Regions from separate parts of the Homo sapiens genome. Here regions 1, 2, 3, 4 and 6 are each linked to region 5. Evidence: fine-mapped expression QTL. A gene starts in region 5. Each other region holds a variant in brackets. All regions are shown on one strand. Distances are between the middles of the regions.

Evidence for each region. PIP is the estimated chance that this variant, and not a neighbour inherited with it, causes the effect.
Region 1: its variant is fine-mapped to the expression of SLC9A3-AS1 in whole blood (TOPMed, PIP above 0.99).
Region 2: its variant is fine-mapped to the expression of SLC9A3-AS1 in regulatory T cells (Bossini-Castillo 2019, PIP 0.95).
Region 3: its variant is fine-mapped to the expression of SLC9A3-AS1 in minor salivary gland (GTEx, PIP above 0.99).
Region 4: its variant is fine-mapped to the expression of SLC9A3-AS1 in lung (TOPMed, PIP 0.95).
Region 6: its variant is fine-mapped to the expression of SLC9A3-AS1 in whole blood (TOPMed, PIP above 0.99).

What each region holds. Positions count from the first base shown.
Region 1 is chr5:503,659-507,742 of GRCh38, reverse strand. All of the region lies in intron 1 of SLC9A3 (solute carrier family 9 member A3), which reads left to right. Among named protein-coding and RNA genes, the nearest start is that of SLC9A3, 19 kb to the left of the region's middle. The variant C/T (reference allele first, on the strand shown) is at 1,563.
Region 2 is chr5:410,667-414,750 of GRCh38, reverse strand. It overlaps AHRR (aryl hydrocarbon receptor repressor), which reads right to left. Exons shown (of 11, transcript NM_001377236.1): 5 at 1,318-1,407. PDCD6-AHRR (PDCD6-AHRR readthrough (NMD candidate)) reads right to left here. Exons shown (of 13, transcript NR_165163.2): 7 at 1,318-1,407. Among named protein-coding and RNA genes, the nearest start is that of EXOC3-AS1, 30 kb to the left of the region's middle. RefSeq lists enhancers at 242-411, 681-850, 565-1,164, 912-1,412, 2,670-2,839 and 2 more and a cis regulatory region at 2,754. The variant G/A (reference allele first, on the strand shown) is at 2,172.
Region 3 is chr5:436,240-440,323 of GRCh38, reverse strand. AHRR (aryl hydrocarbon receptor repressor) reads right to left here. Exons shown (of 11, transcript NM_001377236.1): 11 at 2,039-4,084. PDCD6-AHRR (PDCD6-AHRR readthrough (NMD candidate)) reads right to left here. Exons shown (of 13, transcript NR_165163.2): 13 at 2,039-4,084. Among named protein-coding and RNA genes, the nearest start is that of EXOC3-AS1, 4.9 kb to the left of the region's middle. The variant A/G (reference allele first, on the strand shown) is at 1,875.
Region 4 is chr5:516,200-520,283 of GRCh38, reverse strand. All of the region lies in intron 1 of SLC9A3 (solute carrier family 9 member A3), which reads left to right. Among named protein-coding and RNA genes, the nearest start is that of SLC9A3, 6.2 kb to the left of the region's middle. The variant G/A (reference allele first, on the strand shown) is at 1,965.
Region 5 is chr5:471,469-475,538 of GRCh38, reverse strand. SLC9A3-AS1 (SLC9A3 antisense RNA 1) reads right to left here and starts at 2,303. Exons shown (of 7, transcript NR_125375.1): 1 at 2,140-2,303; 2 at 220-402. It overlaps SLC9A3 (solute carrier family 9 member A3), which reads left to right. Exons shown (of 17, transcript NM_004174.4): 16 at 407-656; 17 at 2,157-4,070. The coding sequence ends at 2,160. SLC9A3-OT1 (SLC9A3 3' UTR overlapping transcript 1) reads left to right here and starts at 2,574. Exons shown (of 2, transcript NR_024158.1): 1 at 2,574-2,860; 2 at 3,574-4,070. RefSeq lists enhancers at 1-411, 2,339-2,979, 2,980-3,622 and silencers at 1,596-2,415, 2,536-2,605, 2,966-3,095.
Region 6 is chr5:351,933-356,016 of GRCh38, reverse strand. AHRR (aryl hydrocarbon receptor repressor) reads right to left here. Exons shown (of 11, transcript NM_001377236.1): 3 at 2,106-2,287. PDCD6-AHRR (PDCD6-AHRR readthrough (NMD candidate)) reads right to left here. Exons shown (of 13, transcript NR_165163.2): 5 at 2,106-2,287. Among named protein-coding and RNA genes, the nearest start is that of AHRR, 32 kb to the right of the region's middle. The variant G/A (reference allele first, on the strand shown) is at 1,591.

The DNA.
Region 1 (4,084 bases), 32 kb before region 5:
CTGTGGGGTGGGGATTCGGGCGTCTGCGGGGTGGAGATTCGGGCGTCTGCGGGGTGGGGATTCGGGCGTCTGTGGGGATTCGGGTGTCGACTGTGGGGTGGGGATTCGGGCGTCTGTGGGGCAGGGATTGGGGTGTTGGGGGTTGAGGATGGGGTGCCAGTGTCTTTGGATCCCCCCAGAATGGGCGCGGTGGCTCACACCTGTAATCCCAGCACTTTGGGAAGCCGCGGCTGGAGGATCACATGAGCCCAAGAGTTTTAGACCAGCATGGGCAACATGGTGAAAAAAATCTCTACAAAAAATAGTAAAATTAGCCAGGCCTGGTGGTGCTCGCCTGGGCAACAGAGCTAGACACTATTTAAGAAAAAAAAAACGGTGAAACCCCGTCTCTACTAAAAATACAAAAAATTAGCTGGGCGTGGTGGCGGGCGCCTGTAGTCCCAGCTACTCGGGAGGCTGAGGCAGGAGAATGGCGTGAACCCGGGAGCGGAGCTTGCAGTGAGCCCAGATCGCGCCACCGCACTCCAGCCTGGGCAACAGAGCCAGACTCCGTCTCAAAAAAAAAAAAAAAAAAAAGAAGCAGCAGCCGGATCCCTCCTTCTTACCTGACCCAATAACTTTATTTATTTATTTATTTATTTATTTATTTATTTATTTATTTATTTTTTGAGACAGTATCACTCTGTCTCCCAGGCTGGAGTGCAGTGGCCCAATCTCGATCTCGGCTCACCACAATCTCCACCTCCCGGGTTCAAGCGATTCTCCTGCCTCAGCCTCCCGAGTAGCTGGGACTACAGGTGTCTGCCACCACTCCTGGCTAATTTTTGTATTTTGTATTTTTTTTTTGTTTTGTTTCTCCATATTGGCCAGGCTGGTCTCGATCTCATGACCTTGTGATCCACCCACCTTGGCCTCCCAAAGTGCTGAGATTACAGGCGTGAGCCACCGCGCCCGGCCCCCAATAACTTTAAAACAAGGATAATAAATAACACGTTTTATCCTTCGTTTTCCTTGGGTTTGAGAACAAAGTCAACCCACTCTCTCTGAAGGAGTCTGATTTTCAGTCTTTACAACTGCCCAGAAAAGTCGAGATTATCATAGGAAACCAGCTCTGCACGGGTTAAAACAGCCTGCTGGGAAGTGGCCAGACAGGTCCCTGGGAGCAGCGCCCAGAAGGTGGGGAACCTGTGGGGTCTGGCTCTGGTTTGCTGCTGTCCCAGCTCTGGAGTGGTGCCCCGCTTGGCAGGGTGGCCCCACAGGACAGGGAGCAGCATGGGGCCCCTCGGGAGGACCCCGGGCCCTCCTGCATTTGGGGCAAATGATGGAGACACGGGGCACACCTCGCGTGAGAATGCGCCCTGTGCGGGCTGCCCTGGCCCTGCCGCGCACCCCAGCACCCTCTCCGCAGCCCGGGTTCCGCGCGTCTCCAGCCCCCGTCTCGGGCCCCTTTCGTGTGTCTTTCCACCTTTGTCCTCTCTGGGTGGCATCAATATCAAGAATCAATCCTCCCAACCGCTTCCGGCTGCTGCGTCCGGGCAAAGCTCGTGACAAAGTCCTGGCTT[C/T]GCGGGCAGGACCCAGAGCTCCTTGATAGTGGCGGCTGTGGCCACGTGAGCAGGCACAGGTGCAGTTAACAGGCTTGGGAAGCTGCCCTCACCGTCTACCTGCACAAAAGAATTCCCGGAGAGCACAGCCTCACTGGAGATCCTCTCCTGAGGGATAAAGGTCAGCGAGACCTGAAGTTGCTCCCCTGCAGGGCATTTGCAAACTCCTCAAAGCCTTTCAGAGGCTCCACCTGCACCCCAACCCTAACCCCACCCCAAAGTGAGGGGGCCTCATGCCTTTGCCTCAGTGGTTCACATTAATTTCATCTCCGTGGTAGTCACTCCCCTCCCAACATGGCCACTTTCCCCACCCCCACAATGGTCACTCTCCCCCCACATGGTCACTCCCCACCCACCCCCCACAGCCACTCTCCCCACCTTGGTCACTCCCCACCCCCCCACAGTCACTCTCCCCTCTCCGTGGTCACTCTCCACCCCACCCCCCAGTCACTCTCCCCCCGTGGTCACTCCCCACCCCCCCACAGTCACTCTCCCCTCTGTGGTCACTCTCCACCCCCCACAGTCACTCTCCCCCTTCCATGGTCACTCCCCACCCCCCCACAGTCACTCTCACCTCCGTGGTCACTCCCCACCCCACCCCCCCAGTCACTCTCCCCCCGTGGTCACTCCCCACCCCCCCACAGTCACTCTCCCCTCTGTGGTCACTCTCCACCCCCCAACAGTCACTCTCCCCCTTCCATGGTCACTCCCCACCCTCCTACAGTCACTCTTCACCCCGCGGTCACTCCCCACCCCCCAACAGTCACTCTCCCCCTTCCATGGTCACTCCCCACCCCCCTACAGTCACTCTCCCCTCTCCGTGGTCACTCCCCACCCTCCTACAGTCACTCTTCACCCCGTGGTCACTCCCCACCCCCCCACAGTCACTCTCCCCCCCCCATGGTCACTCTCCCCCACCCCCCTCGATGGTCACCCCCCAGCACACATCCAGATGCTCCTCCCACAGCAGCCTCCCTCCCTTAAGAGCCTCTGAAGCTAAAAATGGAGGAGGATGCTGTTTCTCATTTGTCCAGGTCTCCAGCCACCCGGGATTCCATCCCCTCATTCTGTTAAAGGGGTCACTGCGTCCACGCTGTTCTGAGGCCTTTTCCCATTTGCACAGGGAAAGCAGGGGAGGGGTGGCAGCTGCTGGCCCCTGCTTCTCAGCACTGGGCTCTGTGTGGCGCCCACGTGGCCACTGTGCCCTGCAGGCGTCTGCTGCTCTTCCAGGCACAGGCGTCCGGGTCTGGGAGCCACTTTGCTAGCCGAGGTGTGAGCCCCCGCTGTATGCCACTCAACCAGCCGCACCCCTGCCCTCCCCTTCTGAGCCTCTGGCCCGGCCCCCATGAAGGGGCCATGTCGGTGGCCGGCCAGGAGCTGGGCACGAACACCCCTTCCCCTTCAGCCCCCACGTTTAGAGACAGTGGCCTCACAGCGCTGAGGGGTGCAGGTCCCGGTGCCCATGGCCCCAGAGGGAGGCACTGCCCAGCAGCTGAGGGTTTGTCTGCTGTCCCCACCCCGAGCCCTCTGGGCTCACCCGGGGGTGACAGGAGGAGGCAGCGGGGCCGTGAGCCCGGGGAGCCTGAGATCTGGCCGCTTGCTGTGTGGTCTGAAGGTCCCGGCACCCTCCCTGGCTGCCGCCGCCGGACACACTGGAGGAGGCTGTGGAGTTCTCTCCCGAGGGCCAAATCCAACGGCCCCTGCAGCGGCTCAAGGTTCAGCCAGTCCTGGACCCTGCATGTCCACCGCCCTGGGCCCTGGCTGCAGCCCCGGGGGGCTATTTCCTCACTTTACAGAGGGGAGCCTGAAGCAAGGAGGGCAGGTCACACCTCCTGGGTGGGTCACGGGACGCGGGGGCTGCAAGAACACGGGGAGACGTGTGCCCCTTGGGTTCCCGGGGGTTCCGGAGCTGGCGGCAGCCCCACAGCGATGCCTTCCGGCACCTTCCCTCCCCAGGCGCCTCATATAGGACGCTGTCTCCTTGCTGGAAGCTTCTGCAGAAGCTTGTTCCCTTCCCTTGTTTAGTTGTTGATAAACCAAAGGCAAAAACACGGGGAATGCTAAACTTCCGTGATTGATGAAGACGGTTTCATAATTTCTACTTTGAAGTGAATGATTTTATAAGGGCAAGAGAGAAGAGAGGGTGAAGTGTGAGGAAGGTGGGGGTGGGTGGGACCCTGAGAATCCAGGCACCGGGTGAAGATGGGAACCCCCCAAGAGCTCTGGGGGCCCAGTCTTCTGTCCAGAGGCCCCAGCCTCGCGCAGACGATTCGCCGATTCAGGAGAAACCACAGCCGTGGATGAGATTTCCAGCAGACACGCCTTCCTTGCCCATTTCATGGAACAAGAAGAAAGTTCTTTATTGGTAACTCACACACATTATACAGATGGAAAGATTCTCCATTTGTTTTTGATTTTCAGCAGTCTGACTGTGCCGTGCCCACAGGCAGGATTTTCCCTGTACTTGCATTGCTTGGAGCTTG
Region 2 (4,084 bases), 61 kb after region 5:
TCAAACATACCTGTTCTTTTTTCATCATATGCTGTGCTTTCTTTATATTGCTGCTGTTATCTTTTATTGTTTTAAATCTATTTGTTTGCCAGTTTCCTTTGGACGGCTTTGCTCCTTAAGTTCTTCCAGGAAGCACGGTTTGTTTACCTGTCAGCTGGCTCCTGCTCACCATCTATGGCTTCCTTGGGTTTATAACTTGCATTGTGAGCTCATTTGCAGGGCGGGTATTTTTGTGGGAGTGGCTTGTGGAAGTGCAGATAAAGGGCCCCATTTTTGCTTCTTTGGGTTCTCCAGAAATCTATCAGTCTGCAGTACGCCTGATTTCCAGATCCTGGGGGTCCTCGCCGTGCAATGGGAGAAATCTTAATTCTACAACCAGCATCTGATTTTCCATGAGGGACCCCAGCTCCTCCCCAGACAAAAAAAACAGCTCCGTTGCTCCCCTCCTGGCCTTGAGTGGGATTTTTTTATTTTTTATTTTTATTTTTGAGATGGAGTCTCGCTCTGTCACCCAGGCTGGAGTGCAGTGACTCGATCTCACCTCACTGCAACCTACACCTCCCAGGTTCACGCTATTCTCCTGCCTCAGCCTCCCTAGTAGCTGGGACTACGGGTGCACGCCACCACACCCAGCTAATTTTTGTATTTTTAGTAGAGACAGGGTTTCACCATGTTGGCCAGCCTGGTCTCAATCTCCTGACCTCGTGATCCACCCGCCTCGGCCTCCCAAAGTGCTGGGATTACAGGCGTGAGCCACCGCGCCCGGCTGGGTGGGATTTTTTATTGCACCTTTTCCCGGGTGAGTTGCCCTTCCAGGGCTTGGTATCTGACGAGGCCTCAACCCCATTCTCTGCCTGGAAGTCTGGAGTCATCCACCTGGGGCTGGCTGGGCAGCATTCCAAATGAACCACTCGCACGTCAGGAAGGGCATTTCCACAACAAGCTGTGTCCTGAGTGCACCAAGAAGCTGAGGCTTAAGACGTTGCCTGGGAGCGGCTGAATGGGATGGTGCTGGTGGGGCAGGGGACCTAGCGGAGTGCCTGAGCCAGAGGAGACCATGCTGCCGTCCGCACGCCACGGCTGCCTTAGACCAGAACACCCCTAACACTGAGAAGCCTCTTGCCGAGACCCCGAACCCAGGCTGGAAGAAACACTGCCCTAGACAAAGCTGGGGTGTGGAGATCTTTATCTGATAAGAGCTCAGTGATAGGAAAAGCCTGATTTTACACATTATCAAACCTTGACGACAACAAACATTTACAAAGGGAAGACAACATAGCACTTAACAGACTGGAGGGCTATTCTGGTTTCATTTACCTGATGGAAGCCCAGATAGTCCACGATCGTTGCTGATGCATAAAATATCGTCCCTTCTGCACTCACGACCAGAGCAAAGCCATTAAGAGACTAGAAGAAAAAACAAAACAAAAAAAAAAATCGAATTGGCTCACCCAAAATGAAAAAGTGCAAGAATCCTTTGCTTAAATTTTCAACAATTTCCTCCTGTTTTGTAGTCCATATTCATAACCTCTAGAAATGCCCACTTTTTATTTATTACCATTTTGTCACAGGCTCCAAGTTAACAGGCAACATGAGAAGGCAGCCATGGTTTACAAGGCCCCTTTTCTAATAAATATAAAATTATGTGCACCTTGTCTTGACGCGACAGTGAGACTTGGTACCTAAGACGAGGCAGGAGCTCTCTGTTTTCCTCTGCAGACGTTTCTGCCCACGTACCTCCTCCTACACACTGTCTGGGATATCCTTTGGCTTTTCTAAGGATTTTTATTATGAAAAATATTGAAGTCCATTGACCAGCCTGGCTAACATGGTGAAACCCTGTCTCTACTAAAAATACAAAAATTAGCCGGGTGTGGTGGTGTGCGACTGTAGTCCCAGCTACTTGGAAGGCTGAGGCAGGAGAATCGCTTGAACCCAGGAGGTGGAGGTTGCAGCGAGCCGAGGTCGCACCACTGCCCTCCAGCCTATGCAATGGAGTGAGACTCTGTCTCAGAAAAAAAAAAAAAAAAAAAAAGAGAGAGAGAGAAAAATGTTGAACTCATCAAGTGTTTTTCTGTATCTGCTGAAAGAATCACAGTTTTTCTTTAGTGTGTGATTGATAGATTTTCTGATGATGCATCATTCTTGTACTTCATGTGGTAAGCCCCTTT[G/A]ATCATGACTTTTTAATATGCCTTGGAATTGATTAACCTCACTTAACCATCTATGTTTAAACTTGGCCTGTAGTTTCTCTCCATATTTTGCATACAGTATACACAACCATCAAGACACGAGTCACTCCTGCTCCTTTCCTTCCATTTTCTGGAGCTGCTTAAGATGAGGGTGACGTGCTTCTGGAAGGCCTGGTCCGCCTCACCCTGAAGACCCTCTAGTGCGGGCACATTTTGTGGAGATGGTGGATGAAACAGGGCAGATTTTAATACTATGTTGATTTATTTATTGTTCGTGTGTGCAAGTTATTTATTTTTTTTACATTAACTATGGCATCTTAAAATATTTTCTAGAAATTCATTTCATCTTGATGTTAAATTCATTCGTGTATGTTATTCACAATATTTGCATGATTATTAAATCCTAGTCACAGCCGTAATCATCGTGGGATTTTGGAGGGAGCAGATGGAGAAGGCAAGGATGTGGCTGTGTTGTGCTTGATGTGGCGTTTTCCTTTATTTGAGCAGCGAGCCTCGCAGCCCCACCCTGCAGCAGCTTCCCGGGGCCATCACCGGTGAGGATGCGCGAAAGACGGTGGCCTCTGAGTCGCAGGATCTGTCCATGGCAGCAATGGCCACTGACGCTGAGCAAGCACAGGCTACCAGGTGGAATATCTCGCCCAGTCTCACATCCCACACGAGGTAGAAGCTGGGGGTGAGGGGGCTGAGTCACCTGGACACAGCTTTCATAAATGTTTCCATTTGTGTCTTTAAAACACAGACATTCGGAGACTTTAACTCCCATGATGTTTGTGGCTGTCAGCAGTATACTATATACTAATTTCCCTTAAATCTGGACCATGCTGGGTACTTTTATTTTCCTTTTTTCTTTTTTTGAAATCTTTGCCAATTTGAAAACAGATATATTATTTCTGAAAAGAGATAAATTATTTTACCATTATAGTTTTCATTTCTTTGATTACTAATGACATTGAAAAACATTTCCTGCATTCACTGGTAACTTGTATTTCTTCTTTGGAAAACTGCCCTATGTATGTCATGTGCTAATTTTTCTATTAGGGTTTATAAGTATCAATTTCTAAGAGCTTTTGAAATACTGGTATTGAAGACTCCTAGGCAGCCAAGGATAATGGCAGTTACCTAAATCCAAATCCCCCACAACATTCCACAAAATGACGGAGAATGGTAAGAACAGGTGCAGCTACACAGACCCAAAATTGCATCATAATGAGGACACAGGAAGTGTAATAAACCTCCAATTACACACAAGCAGAAGGGTCAGCATCAAATGCCAGTGAGCTTAAAATGACTGTTTCAAAAGTATGTATGTAGTCCCTCCTCAAGAAACTGGAGAGAGAAGAGTCAGTTAAATCTAAGGTAAGTAAAAGGAAAGAAAAAATAAAGGTAAGAGTCAAAAATCCATGAAAATGGTTTAGAACAGTCAAATAATAAAGGCCATTAACAGAGTCAAAATTTGAATTTTTGAAAATTTTGAAAAGATTAATAAAACGGATAATCTGCTAGCAAGACTCATCAAGAAAAAAAAAACAAATCACTGACACCAGGAGTTTAAAAGTACATCACTACAGGTCCTACAAATATTAAAAGGATAATAAGAAAATACTAAAAGTGATAGTCAATACATTAAACAATTTAAGTGAAACAGGAAAATTCCTTGAAATATGCAAATTAACAAAAGTGATATAAGAAGAACTAGAAAATCTAAATAACCTTATACTAAATAAATTGAATTTCTAATCAAAACTTTCCTACAAAGAAAACTCCAGGCTCCAATCAAAAAACATAAAATACCTAGGAATAAATCTAATAAAAGATGTGCACGACTGGTATATTGAAAACAAAGCAACATCACTGAGAAAATACCTGAATAAACT
Region 3 (4,084 bases), 35 kb after region 5:
TTTTCCTAAGATGCAAAATGCATAAGCCATAAAGAATAAAATAGAAAAGTTGCTATATTAAAATCTTAAACTCTTGTGGGATATAATTTTTAAATCCTTAAGTGAAAAGCCAAGCCACAGACTGAGGGAAAACATTGTCAGCATCTGTAACTGACAAGAAAATTGCTATCCAGAATAAAAACAGAACTCCTGCAAATTGATCTAAAAGGGCAAACAAGTGCAGCAAGAAACGGGTAAAGGACAAGAGCCACTGGCTCCGGGGAATAAGCTGCTTCCCTCGGCCTTCAGGGAGACCTTGTCCCCACACCCTCCCCACGGGGCCCTGCTGAAGCCTCTGAGCCATGACTAGGGTGTCCGTTGACCTGACCAGACCATGAGCCATGACCCAGGCCCTGCTCTATTGTCAGCCAGACCTCACTGCGGCCATGCAGCCTCCCCCACTCGCTATTCAGCTCCAGCCGTCCATACGTCCTGCATAAAACTGCCCCCAAAGACCTGGGCCACCCCCAGCCCCAGCTCTGTGCACCTGCAAAGCACCGGTCCCCTCCATGCCCCGCAGAGTTTACGGGGTTCTCATGGTCACGTTCAGCTGCCTGCACCCCTTCCCCCTGCACACGCACACACCGCACATCACACATGTTCAGACGCCAGCTCTGGGACAGCACTGATGTCTGCATCGTTTTCTCCTGAATGCGTCCCCAGCACTGGTGCAGGGCCTGATACTCAACAAGGACTAAAAATATGCCGAATGAATAAACAAAATGCACATAAAACAGCTGCCGTTTCATCCCTTCAGAAGCCCAAGACTGAAAAAGTCTGTCCACACAGGTGCCAGTGTGGGGTGAGGATGGGAGCCCAGGAGGTGTGGCTGGTAGAAGGGAGGCCAAGTGGGTGCAGCCCCTCTGGAGGACGCTGGGCAGCGCCTGGTGAGATGAAATTGTGTGCGTCCAGCTGGGCGTGGTGGCTCACATCTGTAATTCCAGCATTTTGGGAGGCCGAGGTAGGCTGATCATGTGAGGCCAGGAGTTTTAGACCAGCCAGGCCAACAAGGTGAAACCCAGTCTCTACTAAAAATACAAAAATTAGCTGGGCGTGGTGGTGGATGCCTGTAGTCCCAGCTACTCTGGAGGCTGAGGTGGGAGAATCACTTAAACCTGAGAAGTGGAGGCTGCAGTGAGCCGAGACTGCACCACTGCACTCCAGCCTAGGCAGCAGAGTGAGACTCCATCTCAGGAAAAAAAAAGAAAAGAAAAGAAAAAAGAATTGTATGCGTTCCAACTCCACACAGGCACACTCAGCAGAAGCCAGACTGGGGGTGAGGAGTGAAAATGCGGGAACTCCATCTGCCTGAGGCCACAGAGGAGAGGGCATGGGGGGCAGGGTGGGTCAAGTTGTGGGGCCACAGATGGGAGGGCTGGCCTGGTCCTGGGGGAGGACACGGGAGTCTTACACGAGTGACCAGGACGGGTTTGCTGATGGGCTGCAGGGTGCGAAGGAGGCCTGGCAGGGGCTGCGCAGGCTCTAAAGATGCCTGAAAGGAAACAAAAGCGCAGCTCCCTGGGCCTTGGACTGCCGTTTGTGCTTAAGGAGACCCCAGCACTTTTTTCGATGGCATTGAGGGGTCTGGCCGTAATCTGCCTGGGCCCTTCCCCCTTCCCATGGGCTTGTCGTGCAGGCCCTGTGCCAGGCAGGGTGGACCCCGCATGGCCCCGGACCCACAGTGCCCTCAGCTCTACCCTCCTCACTTCTTACAGGACGGGTCAGGTCTGGGACGTCCTGAGAGCACCCAGGAGGGGCCCTGACCCTCAGTGACAGGGGAGGGGGGCCTAGGCCCTCTCTAGATGCCACTGGTCAGGAGCAGGGAGATGGCAGGC[A/G]TTTTCTCCTCCTTCACGAGGCTTGCGGCTCTAGAGTTTTTATTTTTATTGCTGCCTTATATTTAGTGGTGAAAGGCTGTCTTAGAATGTAGATTAACCAGCACACTCTTTAAAGGAAATAAAGTGACTTTGGAAAATCACGCAGACTTCCGCAAACATTTAAATTTTTGTTAAACATGTACTAGCATGTCATGTATTTTACATCAATATTGCAAATTTAATACAAACCACAGTACAAAAAAATTTGAAAGCTTCCTAAAGGCACTGAGAAAGCAGTAGAGAAAGTTGCATTTATAGTGCATAAGTTTTAAAAATTCAACAAGTTGGTCTAGGTATTGAAAACTTTTTTCTTCCAGTAGAAACTGCAAAAATATAAGTTGTATTGATCTCCTCCCTTCCATCCCATTCCCACCTTATATTTGACTTTAATACTTTTTCAGCTATATAGGGAAAAGCTACATACACAGAAAAACATGAACCTGTAATTAGTGCTAACAATGACATTTTAGAGAGAAGTGATACATCCACACTTTCTATGTTCCATAGTCTTCCCCACTGTTTTCCAAGAGGGTTGTGGCTATAAAATAACCAAAGTGCTGACTTGGGGAGTTTTTGTTGCCGTTGAGGAAGGGATGTCGGACACCTCGCTGATCCCAGGCTCTCAGGGCCGCAGCCTCCTGTAGGGTCCCCACACCACAAAACCGGCAGAGCCAACACCCACGTGCTGAGTGCAGCGTCAACACAGCGTGGCCTGCCTGGCAGCAACCCACCACTCAATCTGGCACCTGTCACCAGGAGGGCCTTGGGCAGGGGCGCATCTAAAGGTCTGGGAGGCTGCAGGGCAGGACGTGGTGAAGAAGCCTCCTGGGCAGGGGCTGCCGTCTGTGCTTAAGGAGGCCCCAGTGCTCCTTTGATGACACTGAAGGGCCTGGCTACAATCGCAAACACGCAGCCACGTCTCTGATTCGATCTTTGGGGCCTGGTGTTTTTCCCAGTGACAGCCGTTGGCTCCAGGACACTCAAGACATGTGATACACAAGACTCTCAGTCACTGAGCTCCCTGCCCTCCTCGGCCCCGAGACTGGAAGAGCAGCTGCCACGTTTGGGACCCAGGCGGCGCCCAGGCTGAAGGGAGCTGCTGAGGGCTAAGCTCCAGGACACAGGACGTGGCTGGCCCTCAGAACAGGGAACTCCAAGAGTGGAACATGCATGTTGATTGAGACTTTTTCAGGGATACAGCAGATCTGATTTTTAATTATTTTTTGTAGAGACACATTCTTCCTGTGTTGCCCAGGCTGGTCTTGAACTCCTGGGCTTAAGCGATCCTCCTACCTTGACCTCCTAAAGTGCTGGGATTATAGGCATGAGCCACTGCGCCTGGCCTGCAGGCCTAATTATTAAGGGTCTTTCCATGATCAGCAAAGGAGCTGGGCACTCGGTTAGAATAGGAAGGAAGTGGGAAGCTTCTGAAATACCATCCTGGTCTTAAATCCATAAATGCCCAGAGGCCAGAAGTGTGCCATGCTCAGCATGAGAAATGAATAAAGAGGGGCTCTGTGCCAGTGTAGGGCCAAAGTGGGAAGTAGGCGCCAGTCCTCAGGTGCCTGGTCTTCACAGGTGCCTGCTCTCCACAGGTGACTGACCCTCAGGTGGCTGGTCACCCCATGGCTGGCCCCTGGGTAGCTCTGTCCCCATCGTGACTTTAGGCATCAGATAAGGGAGAGATGGCAGTGGAAGGCCATGAGCACGTCTCACACCCACGACAGCACAGCATGGAGGTCACCTTTTGAAAGACGCCCCCTGGCTAAGCAGAGAGTGAGTGCCCCCTCGGTAGGGCTTGGGGGTCATAGGGGGCCACGATGGATCTGTGACTCTGGGCTCAGATGGTTGGCTGTTCTCTTCCAGTACTGAGAGGAGATCCTTATCCCTATCCCTGCCACATGGGGGCAAACTGTCCAAGAACCAGGCCACTGAGAGGCGCAGGCACCTGGCATTGGGCAGAAGACCCAGTCCTGCCAACCAAACCTGGGTTTTGACAAAGTGAAGGTGCGTTTAACAAATGGGTCCAGCATTAAACCAGCATCTAAGTAAGCACTGACACCTCAAAGCCACTGACAACAGAGAGGGCGTCCACACAGGAGGCAGAATGCACAGTGCGGCGGGGTGGTGGGTCCCTAGGGGTGGTGGGTCCCTCACCCGCGGGCCAACAA
Region 4 (4,084 bases), 45 kb before region 5:
CCGGGAGTGGATTCTAGGCCCAGCTGGGTCTATTTGTCCCCAGGCGTCTGGCCGTGGGTACCCCTTGGGTCGTGGACGCACAGGAGGTGTGGGAGCTGACATCCCATGGGGCCTGAACTCCAGAGCTGGGCAGCGCTGGCTCAGGGAGGTGGCGCCTTGAGGGTTAGGACCTGAGCAGCGGCAGTGACTGCCCACGGGGAAACCAGGACAGTGGGGCTGGGTGGGGGCGGTGGGGGCAGGCTCTCGAAGTGGAGCTTGTGTTGCTGAGGGATGTGATGGCGGAGGCCCAGGCCGCCCCACATCTTGGTGAACCCTGGCTGGAAGGGCAGGCAGGAGCGAGACGGGTATCTGGAGTCTGCAGTGCCTCGCGCAGCCGTAGGAGGGTCAGGAGGACGCTAGGGCACAGGGTCAGGAGTGCAGCCCCCTGCTCTGAGCGGCGCAGCCCCCCCACCCCCCTCTGAGCGGCGTTACCCCCACTGTGGGAGTGTGGGAATGCTTTTCTGCAGGAGCTTCAGCCTTGGGGTTCCAGCACCTCCTCCTTAACTGGACAGGGTCAAGACCCAGATCCCTGAGCGCCAGGTTCCCTGCTCCCGGCCCCAAATCTGAGGCACTGGGTGCTTCCTTGTTGTCTGGGTGGGTGCAGGAGGTCGTCCTCACCCGACACTTGACTCCCGGACCCCCGCTGTCTTACCCAGCGTGTCCCAGGGAGCCTCCGCCACTGGGGGTGTGACACTGCCTAGACCACCTGCCTAAGCTGTGGATTTCTCCCAGGTGCAGCCTTCCACCGGGCACTCAGTGCCCAGGCTGTGAGGGCAGCTGTGGGTCACCTTCACCTCCTGGGGTGAATGGTTTTATTGCATGTGCTCTGGTCCTGGAGGCAGGAATCCCTCAATGCGCACAGCACCTACCCCTTCACCATATCTGCTACCCACTCCAGCTGAACTGCCCTTAGGTTCTCCTTGAAGAAGCATAGGAAAGGAGGTTCTGGGGACAAGGATGGCCTAGAAGGCCAGGGTGGTCAGCAAAGTCCCCAGGGGACCCAGTCCTCCCAGGAGAGGACCAGTGAGTGGGCCCTGTGGACCCCAGTCCTGGCAGGAGAGGTATGCTCAGTGGGTTTGGAGTCAGGAGCCATCACGGGAGGCCTGGAAGCAAAGACTCTCCCAGGAGTCTCCACAGGGGAGGGTCTGGCCCTGAAGGGGTGAAGTTTCATTTTCCAGGAGCTGCCCACGGAGAATCAGCTGTAGGCTATAAAACAATCCATGGCGTTTGGAGCTAAGGTGTCGCCCGGGAGAATCCTGAGGAAAGGGGCAAAGGTTGGGAAGTGCTGATAGCATCGGGGCAGGGAAGGAACCACCAGGGCTCCCTGTGGGTACCTGGCAGCTCCGCCAGAGGCTGAGAGAGAGACAGGGATGGTGAGTCACTCTTGGCCGCCAGCCCCCCCAGCCCACTCCCTGCCACCCCAGGAGCTCCCCGCCTCTGGGCGTGTGTGGCGCTCCCTGTGACCACACAGGCTTGTTAAGATGCCTGTCTGGGCCCAAGCTCCAGCACCCAACCAGCCTCATGTCTACTGCAGAAATGGCTGAGCTCTCCCAGCGTGGCCACCCCCACTGCCGGCTTCTCCAGGAGCCAGGGGCTGCACTGGGGCATGTTTAGAGTTGGGGTTCCCATCCTGCACATCATCTGCCCAGCGTCTGGGCTGAGTCCCACAACCAGGAGTCTCAGTGCACGATGAAGCCACCAAGGCTTTCCTCACCCACCCTTGAGACAAGAGTCTCAGGATACCAGGTGTCAGGGTGCCAGGTGTTGGCGTGCCAGGTTTCTGGGTACCAGGTGTTGGGGTACCAGGTCTCAGGGTGCCAGGTCTCAGGATGCCAGATCTCCAAGTGCCAGGCCTCAGGGTGCCCGGTCGCGAAGTGCCATATCTCAGGGTGCTAGATCTCAGGGTATCAGGTCTCAGGGTGCCA[G/A]GTCTCAGGGTACCAGGTCCTGGGATGCCAGACTCCACCCTCCCCCAAATCATGCACTCACCCCAGCTTCATCCCTTCACACTCAGCATCTCTCCTGCTCCACCTTTCCTGAGCTCGGAGCCTTCCTCCTCTGAGCTCCTGAGGACACCTCCTCCTCCAAGGTCTTTTGGCTCAACCAGGTTGATGCCACAATGGCAGAGGTTGTCTGTCTTATTCCTCCTGTGTCCCCAGTGCCTGTCCCCAGCAGAGTCCTGCAGATCTGAGCACGTGAATGGACATGTGGATGGATGGATGGATGAGTGAATAGATAGATGGATGGATGCGTGGATTGATGAATGGATGAATGGATGAGTAAATGGATGGAAGGGTGGATGAGCGAATGGATGAATGGAGTGAATGGATGGATGGATGGATGATGGGTGGATGGATGGATAAGTGGATGGATGGATGGATGAGTGAATGGTCAGATGGGTGGATGAGTGGATGGATGGATGGATGGATGGATGGTTTGGATGGATGGATGGTTTCGGTGAATGGACGAGTGGATGGATGGGTGGATGGATGGATGGATGGGTGAATGGATGGATGGGTGGATGGCTGGATGGCTTGGGTGAATGGATGGATGGGTGGATGGATGGATGGATGGATAGATGGATGAATGAATGGATATATGAATGAGTGAATGGATAGATGGATGAGTGGATTGATAGATGGGTGAGTGAGTGGATGGATGGATAGGTGGATGGGTGAATGGATGGATGGGTGAATGGATGGATGAGTGGATTGATGGATGGATGAGTGAATGGATAGCTGGATGGATGAGTGGACTGATGGATGGATGAGTGGATGGATAGATGGCTTGGATGAATGGATGAGTGAATAGTTGGATGGGTGGATTGATGGATGGATGGATGAATGAATGGATATATGGATAAGTGAATGGATGGATGGATGAGTGGATTGATGGATGGGTGGGTGAGTGAACTCATGGATGGATGAGTGAATGAATGGATATATGGATGAGTGGATAGGTGGATGAGTGAATGGATGGATGAATGAGTGAGTGAGTGAATGGACAGATGGATGGATGGCTGATGCGTGAATGGTTGGTGGATGGATGAGTGGATTGATGGATGGATGAGTGAGTGGATGGGTGAATGGATGAGTAAATGGAGGGATGGGCGGAAGGATGGGTAGATATGTGGATGGATGGATGGATGGATGAGTGGATGGATGGATGCACCCACAGGTGGGTGAAGGAGGAATGAACGAATGAGTGGATGGACAAATGGATGGATGAATGCACACATGGGAGAGTGAAGGAGTGGAGGGATAAACATTGGCTTCCCATGTGTAAGCTTCATCCAAAACCATCTGGACACTGGGCCCAGGAAGAGGCTGTCTCAGCTCCTCGGCTGAATTATTTCCTTAAATTACTGCAGAGCCTCCAGTGAGCAGCACACCTACTTCTGGATGACAATGGCTTTAGAGGCGCCGCCTGCCAAGGAGTGGCAGACTTAACCTGCAAAGTGGGATCATTGACAAGCAATTGCAGCATCGGCTCAGAGCACTTTGGCAGATCTGGGCTCAGCATGGTGAGCACCATCTGCCCCACACAGAGCTCTCTCAGGAGTGGGTCATGTGCCCAGAGAGAAACCACGCTCACCTGGCCTAAAACATGCTCCACTGTCAGCTGAAATCTTAGCTATGCCTTAGCTATATGCCTTCTGGAATAAGACAGACAAACCCAGCCCCATCCTGATGTTGCCAGACCTCGGAAGATGCAGACACACCCTGGGCAGGCCCTGACTTGGTGCTGGAACTGCCCAACCTGGCACCCTCCTGGGACACAGAATAGAACTCGGGTCACAGGCAGCCAATACCCTTAGCATACCAACCACTTTTAGGAGCTTGAATGGTCTCATCCGTCTTATCGAGGTAGCCCAAAATGCTGGACTTTGCAGCAGCCAGCGCTCTGGGCAATGGAGGAGCTCTCTCCAGTTTAATATTCATTCAATAAACATTCAGTGCCCATCACGCCCTGTAGGCAGTGGGGATCCCACTTCAAATGAGACCCAAATATCCCATGGGGCAGCACTCCTGGGCACCAAGGACCAAAG
Region 5 (4,070 bases):
GTGGCTAAGGGAGGGGTGGCTCCTGCCGCCCCAGGAGGGAGCTCGGTCATTGGACCAGGGGCACTGGGACCTGGGGGGGTGGGGTCTCCTGTGGGTTCTCAAGGGCCCTGCTTGGCACCCACTGAGTGCCCCCTCAACCAACTCGGAGGCTGCTGTCCGGGGAGACGTGGGCCGGGCAGGGAGCAGGTGGGGTATGTCTTGAGGGAAGCGAGACGTTACCTGTGCTGCCTGTGGCGTGTGGGGTCATGGATGTGGGGGAAGGGCCCGCAACCTGAAAGGCACGTGACCCTAACCTTCCCGGTGACCCTAACTTTCCAAGGCACCCAGCAGGTGACGGCCCCGGCGAGGTCTCCCCTGCCGCCGTGGGGCTCTCCGAAGGCTGACTAGCCGCTGCCCTCTCTCCTAGGAATTGACAACCCTGTGTTTTCTCCGGACGAGGCCCTGGACCGCAGCCTCCTGGCCAGGCTGCCGCCCTGGCTGTCTCCCGGGGAGACGGTGGTCCCCTCGCAGAGGGCCCGCACGCAGATTCCCTACTCTCCCGGCACCTTCTGCCGCCTGATGCCCTTCCGCCTCAGCAGCAAGTCCGTGGACTCCTTCCTGCAGGCAGACGGCCCCGAGGAGCGGCCCCCCGCCGCCCTCCCCGAGTCCACACACATGTAACGCTCCCGGGCCTCCCGCCGCCTAACCCCTCTCCGCAGCTCCTCTCCCTCCAGGTCTCCGCCTCGCGCGCGCTGTCTCTCTCCCTCCCCGCCTAACCCCTCTCCGCAGCTCCTCTCCCTCCAGGTCTCCGCCTCGCGCGCGCTGTCTCTCTCCTCCCTGGACCTGAACCTGGCTCGCTCTCTCTCTCCCCGCCTAACCCCTCTCCGCAGCTCCTCTCCCTCCAGGTCTCCGCCTCGCGCGCGCTGTCTCTCTCCTCCCTGGACCTGAACCTGGCTCTCTCCCTCCCCGCCTAACCCCTCTCCGCAGCTCCTCTCCCTCCAGGTCTCCGCCTCGCGCGCGCTGTCTCTCTCCTCCCTGGACCTGAACCTGGCTCGCTCTCTCTCTCTCCCCGCCTAACCCCTCTCCGCAGCTCCTCTCCTCCAGGTCTCCGCCTCGCGCGCGCTGTCTCTCTCCTCCCTGGACCTGAACCTGGTTCTCTCTCTCCCTCCCCGCCTAACCCCTCTCCGCAGCTCCTCTCCCTCCAGGTCTCCGCCTCGCGCGCGCTGTCTCTCTCCTCCCTGGACCTGAACCTGGCTCGCTCTCTCTCTCTCCCCGCCTAACCCCTCTCCGCAGCTCCTCTCCTCCAGGTCTCCGCCTCGCGCGCGCTGTCTCTCTCCTCCCTGGACCGGAACCTGGTTCTCTCTCTCCCTCCCCGCCTAACCCCTCTCCGCAGCTCCTCTCCCTCCAGGTCTCCGCCTCGCGCGCTCGCTCTCTCTCCTCCCTGGACCTGAACCTGGCGCGCTCTCTCTCTCCAGCAGCCCCTCTTCCTCCTCTAGCGCCCTGCTGGCCGCACCTCCCTCAGGAGCCCGGACAGAGATACTCTGGCGTCTCTGCTGCTCCCACGGAGCTGAGGGCACTAGGGCCGCCTGAGATTTCCTTTAGGTGGCTCCGAAAGCTAGTCCGCGAGTCCAAATCCTGCGCTCCCAGGGAGCTGAGAGCAGGGCTGGGGGAAGCCAGACAGACGCCCCGGGTCCCCGACCCTCTCACAGGGATACAGGGAGGGCCGGCCCCGCAGACCCGGACTCTGCCTCCAGCTCAGAGCAGGGAGAGGGGCGGGCCGTGGGGTCTGGGCTTTCTGAGCTCCCTCTGGGGGCCTGGGAGGCACCCGGGGGACGCCAGGGCGGTTTGAGATGGAGGAAGCAGGTCCCCTTGGGGACCTTGACCTCCCGCGCTGCAGGGCCTGGGGCGGGACCTTCCTGCGCCGAGGAGGCCGCTGTCCCGGGACCCCCGGCGGGGGGACGTGGCGGGGCCGGGCTGGGGCTTCGCTGTTGCTGCTTCCGCCTCTGCCCCGCGAACCCGGGTCCTGGGAGGAGGCCCCAGCGGACGCCGAGCCTGGGGTGCGCCGCGGGAGGGGAGGCGAGAGCCGCCGGGCTCGGGGACAGCTGAGGCCCCCGGGGACGCCCCTCCCGCCCCAGCGCCCGGGCTCCGCGCGCCGCTCACGCCTTCCTCTCCCGCAGGTGACACCGGCTCCGACACGCCGCTAACCGGCCGCTCGTCCCCGCGCCACGGTCCGCCCACCGCCGCCGCCGCTGTCCCAGAGAAACCCCAGATCCCCGCGCGGCTACAGCGACCGCGAGCCCCGAGCCCCGCCTCGCCCACGCCAGCGCCTGCGCAGAACTCCGAGAGTGCCGCGCCTGCGCCCGCAGAGCCGCCCGAGGGCGAGCCGGGGGCGGGGCCTGCGCCGGGGGCGGGGCCGGAGCGCCGAGGGCTGCCGAGTGCGCACGCGCGTTCGGCGGCGGCGCGCCGCGTGCACAGCCGGCGCTCGTTCCAGCGGCCTCGCGCGCGCCGCCGCCCCGCGCTGCTGAAGCTGGCGTCGCTGCCGCCCTCGTGCCACGCACCGCCGCACGCGCTGGAGCAGGAGGAGACGCCGCTGTGACGCCGCCGGCGGGAAGGGTCCGCGCGCCATGGCTGGCCGCTCGCGCCCTTTCCCACCGCTGCCGGGAAACCGAGGCTCGCCCCAAACGGATTTGCGTGAAACCAGCCCAAGGTTCCGGGCCCCCCCAACCGAGCCCCGCGCCCGGGGACTGACTCGGGGACCGACTCAGGGACCTCCCGAGCGCCAGGACTCAGGGCCCGACCTGCAGCGGCTGCAGGCCCAGCGCCCGCAAGCGGCCTGGGCCGAGCGCCGTTTCCAGGCCCTCGCCAGGTCTTTGAACTGCAGGTAAAGTGGCAGGAACGTCTTCCGTCTGCTCAGCGTTTGGGGATTTAGACTCCTAAAGCCAGTACCTGCCCCGTTTCCCCCCCAGGTTCCGTCCTGCCCGCGCCCGGTCTCAGGGTGGCGGCCCCGGACACGGCCCGTCCCCACAGACGAGGTCTCCGGCCTGAGCTGTCGCACCTGGCGCGGAGGTCGCCCGGGGTGCCCTGGCTGGGTGAGAGGTGGCCTGGCGGGCGGAGCTTGCCAAGAATCACGGCCAGTCCTTAAGTGGATGGTGGGGCCCAGCAGCTGCTCTGTCCCCCTTAACAAACCAGGGGGCATGGAGGGGCCCAGGGCACCGCCCCCCTACCAGGCTCAGGCCCTCCAAGGAGAACCTGCTGAGACCCCTGAGCCTGTCCTAGACCCCGGACCCCTGACCCTTCCCACCCCTTCCAGCGTCCCAGGGCGAGGCCTTGGACAGAGCTCCTGGTCCTCTGCAGGGAGACCATCCAGCCCAAGCTCTGGGAGGCACAGTCCATTGAGTGGGCGGAGGCCGCGGGTGCTGAGCCGGGGAGGGTGCTCGGAGTCCATCCATCCCTCAGACGGCAAGTCCCACAGGGTCCAACCCACCTGAAACCTGCCTGCACGGTGGAAGTGGTGGAGGTGGACACTCCTAGGGGCTTTTCTAAAGCTAGACTCGCAGCTCCTTGCTCAGGAAAATTAAACTATTCACGTTTCAGATCAAGTGTTGACAGTCACCAGTCAGGAGGAGTTCTTAAAGAGTTTTATGTTGACTGAATATTGCACATTGAGTCCCCATTGAGTCCCTGGTGGGAAAAGTCCACAATTTCCCATTGATAGCTTTTTACTGTTGTGAAAAAGGGAAGCGTCAGCCACACAAAAGCCTGCATGACCGCTGCTTCGGAGAAGCTCTCGACCCTAACTGCAGTCACTGTTACTTGGATCAGATCAAGCGCAGTGACTTTTTGGGATTCAGTGGTTATTCTCCACACTTCGTAGCCATTTCAACCAACTCTGAGCACAAAATGCAGCCATCCTCTATGCAGCAAGCCCTGCCCAGTCAGTGACCCTACTGGACAGATCCAAGGCCAGCCCTGGTTCCCTGCTGCAGCCACCGTCCTGACGTTCATCGGAGCAGGCCGGGGCCTGGCCTTCCCGGCACAAGTGGCTGTTCTGACAGGCCCCCAGTTTGTCCCATCTGAACTGCTGGGAGGTT
Region 6 (4,084 bases), 120 kb after region 5:
CTAAGTCAAGAGGCATAGTTTAAGATCTAACTTTTATAGCTTGACTTGTTTCTAATTATACGTGGAAATGACTTCAGAAAAGTTTTTAGAATTTCCTCTAAAATGTACAGCCTGAAGGGGATCACAAAATTCACAATCCTTGGTAGAAAAATCAGGAAGTTTATTCCTGAAAGCTGCAGCACTCTCGTAAGCCGGTGGCCCCTGAGAGTCACTGCAGCTGCGGCAGAGGTGGGCACCTCCCAGCAGGGCAGCAGGAGGCACGCAGGGTGCCCCTGCACAGGATGGCCATCCAGTGCCATTGCCCCGGCTTGGGGCAGGCAGCAGGATGGGAAGCTCACTCGCTGGCAGTTTAAGAAGAGCCAGGTGTCCAAACTTGCTGGAAACACCAGAATCGAAGACTTTCTGAGGCCGTCAAGCCCTGGCCTGGCTGGACACAGTGGGACCTGTGCGGAGAGGAAATGACCTGGCCTCTCCTCCAACCTCCCAGCGAGAGGGTGAGGCTGTGCGGTGTCGGTGGGAGGAAGCCGATGTGACAGGTCTTCAGCTCGGGACAAAGCCTCCCTGCCGGCTGCCCCAGCCCTTCCTGCGCTGTCCAGACACGGGGACTGCCCTCTGCCATTGGCGCTGCTGAGCCGCACTGCGCCATCCATGAAAGGCGTGTCCCAGAAGGCAAACCTGGGAGCCTGCCCTCAATTCCATGCTGGTGCCCATGCCCAGGTGCATGCAGGGTGGTGCCCACTCCACCACACCAGACCACACCAACTGCACCACATCTTAACCCTCCTGGAAAAGCTGCCATCCTGCACATACGGCAAACCCCAGGTCTCTCAGGTAAACTGAGTCCAACACCACCCAGCAGCCCTGGGCACCAGGAGGCCCAGGCTGGGAACAGAGATAAATATAAAATTAATAGTTTTCAACATAAAATTAGAAAACCTGGAATGTAAAACTAAAACTTGCTGTGACCTCACCACTCAGATAAGCTCTGTTAACATTTTGTGGGATTTGATTTCCATGGAGGCTGCGGCCAGCCGGGACCCGGGGAAGACCCTCAGTGTGGGGCCGGCACTGGCAGGACACGGCGCGTGATGCTGGGCATCACCGTGACTTTCCTTCCCGCAGCCCATGGGCCACGTCCTTCCCTGGGGGTGTCTGAGGGTGCGCAGAGGTCTGCAGGGGCCCAGGCACTGACAGCCTCTTGCACCCTGAGACAGACGCCCCCCGCCCAGGGGAGGCCCCCACCCTGACTCAAACTCAGGAGTGCAGGCACCGGGCACAACTGCCACATGCTGCTGGTCACGGGGTTTTTAATTCTAAAAGTGCTGCAATCAAACCACGTGCAGGCACGTCACCCAACACAGAAGCTGAAAGCAGCTTCTCTCCCACCCTCCCGCAACAGCAAAGGCCCCACGGTCTACACCTGCGAGTTCTCTGGAGCGATCCCAGCTCCCAGGGCAGCAATAACCTGAAATCTAAGGAAACGCCATGCTTCCAAGGACAGACAGGGCACAGGCCTGGGGAGGCCCCACCTGAGATGCAGGAGCCCCAGAAGCCCCTCCCCACGAGAGGGCAGCCCCAGCAGCTGTGTCC[G/A]GGCACGGCCTGGCGTGGGCAGGGGGAGGCGCCCGGCACCCCAGGGCAGCCCCCGGGTCCCACCTAGTCAGCTGCCTCAGCCTCCTGACCATGCCCAGCCCTGCTCATCCACAAAGCCGATCCCTCATTCCCTGGAGCCGGGGTCTGTGGGGAAGCCCCAGTGAGGCCCAGCACGGGGAGGAACAGCCCCAGCCCCTCCCTCAGCAGCTGCGCAGCTTCAGCAAACCCAGGACCCCAGGCGCAAACTGGCCCATCCCAGCAAACTGAGGTGAGGCCCCCACCCTGAGAGTGTCGAGGACAGCTAGGGCCAGACCTGGCCCCAGGGAAAATCCACAGCCCAGCCAGCTCCCATCCAGGGGCCAAGTCTCCAGGTTCTGGGGGCAGCGTGGGGGAAGAAGGGAGTGCACATGGTGCAACCCACCAGACACACTTCACCTGGCCACAAGGCCCCAGATGGACTCAGGGGAGACACAGCCTGACTCAAGTGAACAGGTGGGAGCAGGTGAGAGTCCTACCTTGGAAGAAGCTCTTCACCCGGAGGTAACTGACACTGAGGCGCAGGACAGAAAGCTTGTCCAGCTTGGAGATGATGTCAGGCGGGAACGGCAGCAGGCTGGCCAGGTGGTCCAACTCGGCGTTGAGGCGGTCCCGGTGTCGCTTGGAGGGGTTGGACTTCTCTGCCCCCACGGCGGGCCTCCTGTGGGGAGATGGTCTGGGTCAGGTGGGCTTCTCCACCAGAAGCCACAGGCCCCCTGGGGCGGAAACCGTCCTCTGCAGTGACCTTACTAGGAGCATCTACGCTGCTGCCAGGACAAAAGACGGGAAGAGGACTAAAGCTCACCCATGCCTCAAGACATAGACACTAAAAACCACAGCGCACAACAGCCAAGCACAGCTCAGTATCTGGAGGGGATGTAGAGAGAAGAAGCAAACCAGCCGGAGAACCGCAGCTCAGAGCACGGAGACAGGGCACGGCCCCCAGCTGCGGGACAGGCACATTTCTCCACCTCTCCACTACGGATCCCTGAGGAGGGAGGAGGACGCCTGGCCCCAGGCTGGCGGGGCAGGAGTGAGCATAGAAAATGCCACATTCATTCAGCATCCTTAGGGGACTCCTCGGTGTCTAAACAAAACCTAACACATTCCAGGAAACATGAAAAGGTCCTCCTGGCATCAGCCGGGCCGTGCCCAAGGCCGCTCCGAGCTTGGTTTCTCCTGTACATGCTGGGGCTGAGGGGAGAGTACCCAGGGCAAATGAGACCAGGTGCCTGCCACTCTGGGGCCCCACAAAGGGGCAGTGAGGGCCATCACCCAATTCTCCTAATAAGCCAGAGCAGGCCTGCTCTACCCACAAAAAGGGGCCACCTGTGGGGCTTCCACACCACAGAGCCCAGAGAGGGAGGGAGCTGACCCCTCTCACCCAACCTACCTTAAAATGACAGGAGCTTGGCGTGACCCTCTCACCTCAGAGTGACCATCCCCTACAGCTGACCCATTTAACCTCAGAGTGACCGTCCCCTACGGCTGACCCATTTAACCTCACAGTGACCATCCCCTACAGCTGACCCATTTAACCTCACAGTGACCGTCCCCTACGGCTGACCCATTTAACCTCAGAGTGACCATCCCCTACGGCTGACCCATTTAACCTCACAGTGACCATCCCCTACAGCTGACCCATTTAACCTCACAGTGACCATCCCCTACAGCTGACCCATTTAACCTCACAGTGACCATCCCCTACAGCTGACCCATTTAACCTCACAGTGACCGTCCCCTACAGCTGACCTATTTAACCTCAGAGTGACCATCCCCTACAGCTGACCCATTTAAACTCAGAGTGACCATCCCCTACAGCTGACCTATTTAACCTCAGAGTGACCATCCCCTACAGCTGACCCATTTAACCTCACAGTGACCATCCCCTACAGCTGACCTATTTAACCTCAGAGTGACCATCCCCTACAGCTGACCCATTTAACCTCACAGTGACCATCCCCTACAGCTGACCCATTTAACCTCAGAGTGACCATCCCCTACAGCTGACCCATTTAACCTCACAGTGACCGTCCCCTACAGCTGACCCATTTAACCTCAGAGTGACCATCCCCTACAGCTGACCCATTTAACCTCACAGTGACCGTCCCCTACAGCTGACCTATTTAACCTCAGAGTGACCATCCCCTACGGCTAACCCATTTAACCTCACAGTGACTGTCCCCTACAGCTGACCTATTTAACCATCACTGCACTGAAGCCACTTCAACTGCCATCTCGTTCTAGATATCATTTCCACATGCAATCATGCGAAAGAAAAGATGGCAGCCAGTATGGAGTCCACTGGGAATGCATGGGGAGACTGAGCAGGGGCCAGTTACTGGCAGGACCACAGGAACGAGGCCACCTGACTTTCCACACTAACCCTTCCTGGGACCTTGGCACATACAGGAGTGAGCCTGCTGTTTCCAGGGGTTTGGGTCTCTTTTGTCAAGAA